Linked DNA regions of Homo sapiens: region 1 is linked to region 2. The links come from fine-mapping of genetic effects on gene expression. A gene starts in region 2. The other region holds a variant in brackets. All regions are shown on one strand. Distances are between the middles of the regions.

Region 1 (2,907 bases), 23 kb before region 2:
CCTCCCAGGTTCAAGCGATTCTCCTGCCTCAGCCTCCTGAGGACTACAGGCACACACCACCATGCCTGGCTAATTTTTGTATTTTTAGTAGAAACGGGGTTACACCATGCTGGCCAGGCTGGTCTTGAACTCCTGACCTTGTGAGCTGCCCGTCTTGGCCTCCAAAAGTGCGGGGATTACAGGCATGAGCCACTGCGCCCGGCCTAATTTTGTATTTTTAGTAGAGATGGAGTTTCTCCATGTTGTCCAGGCTGGTCTCGAACTCCTGACCTCAGGTGATCTGCCCGCCTCAGCCTCCCAAATTTCTGGGATTACAGGTGTGAGCCACTGCGCCCATCCTAGTGAAACTTTTAAGCAGAGGAGTGACATGCTCAGCTTGGCCATTTTAGTAGCTTAGTCTGGTAGATATACAGAGAATGAGGTGAGGGGGTATGAACTAGGCAGCAAAGAGCTGAGAAGAGCAGTAATCTAAGCTACAAATGAACGGGTCTTGACTATGGCGGCTGCAACGAAAGGAGAAAGGAAAGGTTAATTAGGAATCAAATCTAAGAGTTTGATGATTAAATGGATGTTGAGAAACATGGACCACAGAAGAATTTAGGGATGACAGCTGGCTGGGAGAAGGAAAAGGAAAGGGAACTAAAAGGACTAAGGTATACTGAGAGATGCTGAGACCTATTTGGGTTCTTCTCTGAGGCCTGGAAACAAGGTCCTCCTTCCTTGTGCTTGTGGCTGCCCAAATAAAATCAAGTTTTATAAACCAGGGAAGAAAGGAGAAAAAGATGTTGGGTAGTGCTTATAAGATAGAAACTTGTTGTATGCTTGACGCATTACTTTCAGTGCCTGTCTTGATTCTCAAGCAACTCTACAAGGTACTGTTTTCACTGGGAACACATGAAGTTACAGGTAACAGAATGCATAAATCTGGTTTAAGCCATGAAGACATTTGAAAATCTGACATAAGAATCCTGGAGAAAGAAGTTTCCTTTTTAGCTGCAGTGGCTCAAGGATGTCATTAAGAACCCGGCCTCTTTATGTCTTCCTAATCCTCCTCCTCAACACGTTGGTTTTTCACTCTTAAGCTTGTCAACACAAGGCTTTTCCCTTTCCGGGATTTTATCTTTAACTAGGCTACAAGAATCTTTCCAAAAGCCTGCTTCCAGACTCTTCCATCTCATTGGCCATAATTGGCCACATGCTGAGTTCAGAAGCAATCTCTAGCAGGGGAACGGGCTAAGCTTCAATCAATCATGACTTTTCTCTGAGGCCTGGGGACAGGTATTCCTTCTTTGTACATGTTGTGGCCCAAATGAAATCAGGTTGTATTAACTAGGAAAGAAGAAGAAATAACTGTTAGGTAATGGTAGTAAGTCATATTTCCAACCTTCAGAACATCTGAGGAAAGGGGACAAAAAGAAAAAAGAATTGACCCAGGTCAATCTCCTAAATGCTTTTTTTTTTTTT[G/TG]AGACAGAGTTTCACTCTATTGCCAGGCTGGAGTGCAGTGGCACAATCTCGGCTCACTACAACCTCCACCTCCCAGGTTCAAGCGATTCTCCTGCCTCAGCCTCCTGAGTTGCTGGGACTACAGGCAGGCACCACCACGCCCAGCTAATTTTTAGTAGAGATAGGGTTTCACCATGTTGGCCAGGATGGTCTCAATCTCCTGACCTTGTGATCCGCCCACCTCAGCCTCCCAAAGTGCTGGGATTACAGGCGTGAGCCACCACACCTGGCCCAATCTCCTAAATACTTATTGATGGCATTTACAATCAGAAAGATAACAAAAAGCCCTTATTTATGCAATAATTTACCAGGATATAGCTGATCTGTCAGCTGTGTAATTACTGAAGTATAAAACGAAGGTGTTTCCTGACCTCTTTGTGTAAGTTATATCCTGCATGCATCACTTAAAAACCTCCTATGTCCATTTTGTGCCAGGGTGCATCCTAATATGGCGAGAGAGGACCGGGAGCTGCACTGGTGGTCCTCAGCATCTCTGTGCTTGGCCCAAGTCTCAATATCATGTGTATCTTTCGAATTCTCAGTAAAGGCCAATACTGGATAAGATTACTGAGTCCTGTGAGTCTAATTGAACAATCTGATCTTTTATGTTATCCTAGGTAGGTAAACAACAATGTTATTATCCCCATTTGACAGAAGAAGAAATAGAAACCTAGCAAGGTTTAAAACCTTGCCCAGGCCGGGCACAGTGGCTCACGCCTGTAATCCTAGCACTTTGGGAGGCCAAGGCAGCCAGATATCCTGAGGTCAAGAGTTTGAGACCAGCCTGGCCAACATGGTGAAACTCCGTCTCTACTAAAAATACAAAATTAGCTGGGCGTGGTGGCGCGCACCTGTAATCCCAGCTCCTCAGGAAGCTGAGGCAGGAGAATCACTTGAACCCAGCAGGCAGAGATTGCAGTGAGCTGAGATTGCGCCACTGCACTCCAGCCTGGGCAACAAGAGAGAAACTCTGTCTCAATTAAAAACAAACAAACAAACAAACAAACAAACAAAAATCCTTGCCCAAATTCACCTAGCTATTGATGAGTAGACCAGGATAGCAGGATAGCAACTGGGGCTTAGCTAGTTTCTACCACAGCATGTGGCTAACTGGTTGGTGGTGTTATTCCCTGAAATAGGAATGTGATGAACTCTTTCCCCTCATCTCTGGACACAACTGTATGACATAGCTAGCACATTTCTGTCACATTCTTATATAAATGATCTGTTGAGGCCACAGGCTATCGTCAGACAGCCAGACATTCTTCCCGCTTCACTACCAGGATTTTGGCTGGATTTTTTTTAAGGTAGCAGAAATTTACTTACAAGGAATTGAAAGAGGCTCCAGGGAAGGAGATGTAGTCAGTTCAGTTTGACATGTCTGTAGGACACCAACAGATTTCT
Region 2 (2,907 bases):
CCCCGTCTCTACTAAAAATACAAATAATTAGCTGGATGTGGTGACACGCACCTGTAACCCCAGCTACTCGGGAGGCTGAGGAGGAGAATCGCTTGAGCCCGGAAGGCAGACTTCATGCCATTGCACTCCAGCTTTGGCAACAGAGCGAGACTCCGTCTCAAAAAAAAAAAAATCATATATAGATGATTTGATGATATGGTTAATTTTGTTAGGTGTGATAATGGTATCATTAGTAGCATGATGTCCCTTTGTCTTTAGGAATTGCCGGCTGGCAATGGGGAAGGGGTTGTGCATCCACTATTTCAGCCCCTACTACTTTAAGTCTCTTCCCAAGCACGTTCCTCTCCCAAAGAAGTTACCATTCTAAATGCCTAACAGCTGGAAGTCCCCTCTGGTGGTTTCACAAGTGGAGTGATTTTACAGGAGAAACCCAGGTTTGGGGTTTACTATTTACTTGACGGCATTTGTAATCTGTAAGGCTCTTCCTGCAAAGAACAGGTGTTTCCAACTATACGTGCCTGGTCAAGGACTATTTCTTGGGTTTTCTACGTTCTGCTTTTGACAGCTGACTTAACTCAGGGCCTGCCTCACTGAAGGGAGAAAAAGGAAGGCCTCGGTCCCCCAATCATGATGACCGGGTTGTAAATACTGCCTGGGAAGGGATAATACAGCCTTTTCCATTGTGTGTGTGTTTTAGTTTTTAATTTTTTAAATTTCAAGCTTAGGCAGTGGTTCAGTGCAAGGACTGAAAAGCGCTACAAGAGAAGGTGGGCAAGCACGAGGGGTTTCAAATACAGGGGTGGAAGCAGTAGAAGGAAATGTCTCTTAGGCCCAGAGGACGGAACCAAAGGGTCAATTAGAAGGGAAAGGGACCTGCGGACCTGGGGAGAGGTCACTGGGGTTCTAAGCCTTCCACCTCTGCTTCCGGAATTTCCACGGGTTTCGCGGCCTTCTGGAGCGGCGACTTGGCCACGCTTGGGGTACAGGGTTGTGGGAAGTCATGTCATCCCCTCCCTCACGTGTTCCCTTGGCCATACTTTCCTGCCCCTCCACTTCCAGGCAAAACACTCCTCGGGACAGGCCTTGGGACATGTCCCAGATACACAATGGGGGCGCTGGACTTGGTGATAAGGGGCCTGCAGGAAGAAAAAGGCAGCCGTGAGAGCCGCCTGCAGATCCACGATGCATCTTAAAATTACAAATTCTCAGGCCCTACCCCAGACCTACTGAGTCAGAATACCCAGGGCACTGAGCCAGGGGGTGGGTGCCCGTAGGCCCGGCAGCACCCAGCCTGCAGAAGCTCCACCTCCGGGAGCGCTGAGCTAGGACCAGCTCCCCACGCCCCTGCCCTGGGGCTGCCGGGAGTCCAGTCCTGTTACACCTCCCGCGGCCGCGCACAGCGGCAACCCGGGCGTGCGGGGGCGCGCGCGGTCAGGGAGGGGCCTGCGGAGGCGCGAGGCCCCCGGAAGCGCCTTTCCCGGAAGGCAGGGAGGCAGCGCCGGCCTCCGGAGGCGGCCTGGGCGATGGCGGCGGAGTTTTGTCCATAACGTGGGCAACCGCGCAGCTGGAGGATGGCCTCACTCGGGCCTGCCGCAGCTGGGGAGCAGGCGTCGGGGGCTGAGGCGGAGCCGGGCCCCGCGGGGCCGCCGCCGCCGCCCTCACCGTCCTCTCTGGGGCCCCTGCTCCCCCTGCAGCGGGAACCTCTCTACAACTGGCAGGCGACCAAGGCGTCGCTGAAGGAGCGCTTCGCCTTCCTCTTCAACTCGGAGCTGCTGAGCGATGTGCGCTTCGTACTGGGCAAGGGTCGCGGCGCCGCCGCCGCTGGGGGCCCGCAGCGCATCCCCGCCCACCGCTTCGTGCTGGCGGCCGGCAGCGCCGTCTTTGACGCCATGTTCAACGGCGGCATGGCCACCACGTCGGCCGAGATCGAGCTGCCGGACGTGGAGCCCGCAGCCTTCCTGGCGCTGCTGAGGTGAGCGGCAGCGCGGGCCGGGCCGGGCCGGGCCGGGCCGGGCCGGGCCGGGCTGGGAGATCCCCGGGGCCCGGCCTACCCGGACTCCCGGATGACCTTGGGCTGGGCTCTTCTGACCCGCCCGGGGCCTCAGTTTCCTCCCGAGCCGTTGATGCTCCGGAGGGTCGAAATCGAAATCTGTGAACCAGGACGGCTCAGTCGCCAACTAAACGTTAGTGTCTTCATTAGGCAAGCGTGCGTTTTACCATTGAAAGGCGTTTCGCATTCCAATTATGGATTGTCGCTCAGACTTCAGAATTAGACAAGTGGCAAGGATAGAGGGGCAGATCAGGTTGTCCTGATTGCCCATTTGCGAAGTTTTATGTTTTTGTTTGGGGGAAGAGAGTAGTTGAAAAATCTTGCAGGACTGATGTTTTGGGGTTATTGTCACCCCCTTCCCCCCGCTTTTTTTGAGACAAGGTCTTGCTCTGTTGCCCAGGCTGGAATGCTGTAGCGCGATCATGGCTCACTGCAGCCTCGACCTCTCCGGGCTCAGGTGATGCTCCGACCTCAGCCTCCCGAGTATTTGGGACTACAGGCACGCGCCACCACGCCCGGCTAATTTTTTTTATTTTTATTTTTGGTAGAGAGAGGGTTTCACTATGTTGCCCAGGCTGGTCTCGGACTCCTGGGGTCAAGCGATCCGTCCACCTCGGCCTCCCAAAGTGCTGGGATTACAGGCGTGAACCACCGCGCCTGGCCACTTTTTTGTTTTTGTTTTTGTTTTTCATTAACGTATTAGTTGTCAAGACCCAGGAAAGTAAATACGAAAACAGACAAGTGAGGCTTTACCTGCTTTGTGTTTCTACACACAAGGTCACATTTGCTTATAAATGAATCCCTCCCTTGATGTTAGAATTTGCTTGTTGGTTATTTGAGGATAGTAGATTGACATC

The links. PIP is the estimated chance that this variant, and not a neighbour inherited with it, causes the effect.
Region 1: its variant is the best candidate, but not a certain one, in a credible set for the expression of BTBD1 in whole blood (INTERVAL, PIP 0.61).

What each region holds. Positions count from the first base shown.
Region 1 is chr15:83,088,941-83,091,847 of GRCh38, reverse strand. No RefSeq gene overlaps it. Among named protein-coding and RNA genes, the nearest start is that of TM6SF1, 17 kb to the left of the region's middle. The variant G/TG (reference allele first, on the strand shown) is at 1,465.
Region 2 is chr15:83,065,816-83,068,722 of GRCh38, reverse strand. It overlaps BTBD1 (BTB domain containing 1), which reads left to right and starts at 1,471. Exons shown (of 8, transcript NM_025238.4): 1 at 1,471-1,972. The coding sequence starts at 1,572. It overlaps MIR4515 (microRNA 4515), which reads right to left and starts at 1,388; the gene lies at 1,308-1,388. RefSeq lists enhancers at 1,024-1,073, 1,084-1,203 and silencers at 1,264-1,743, 1,984-2,153.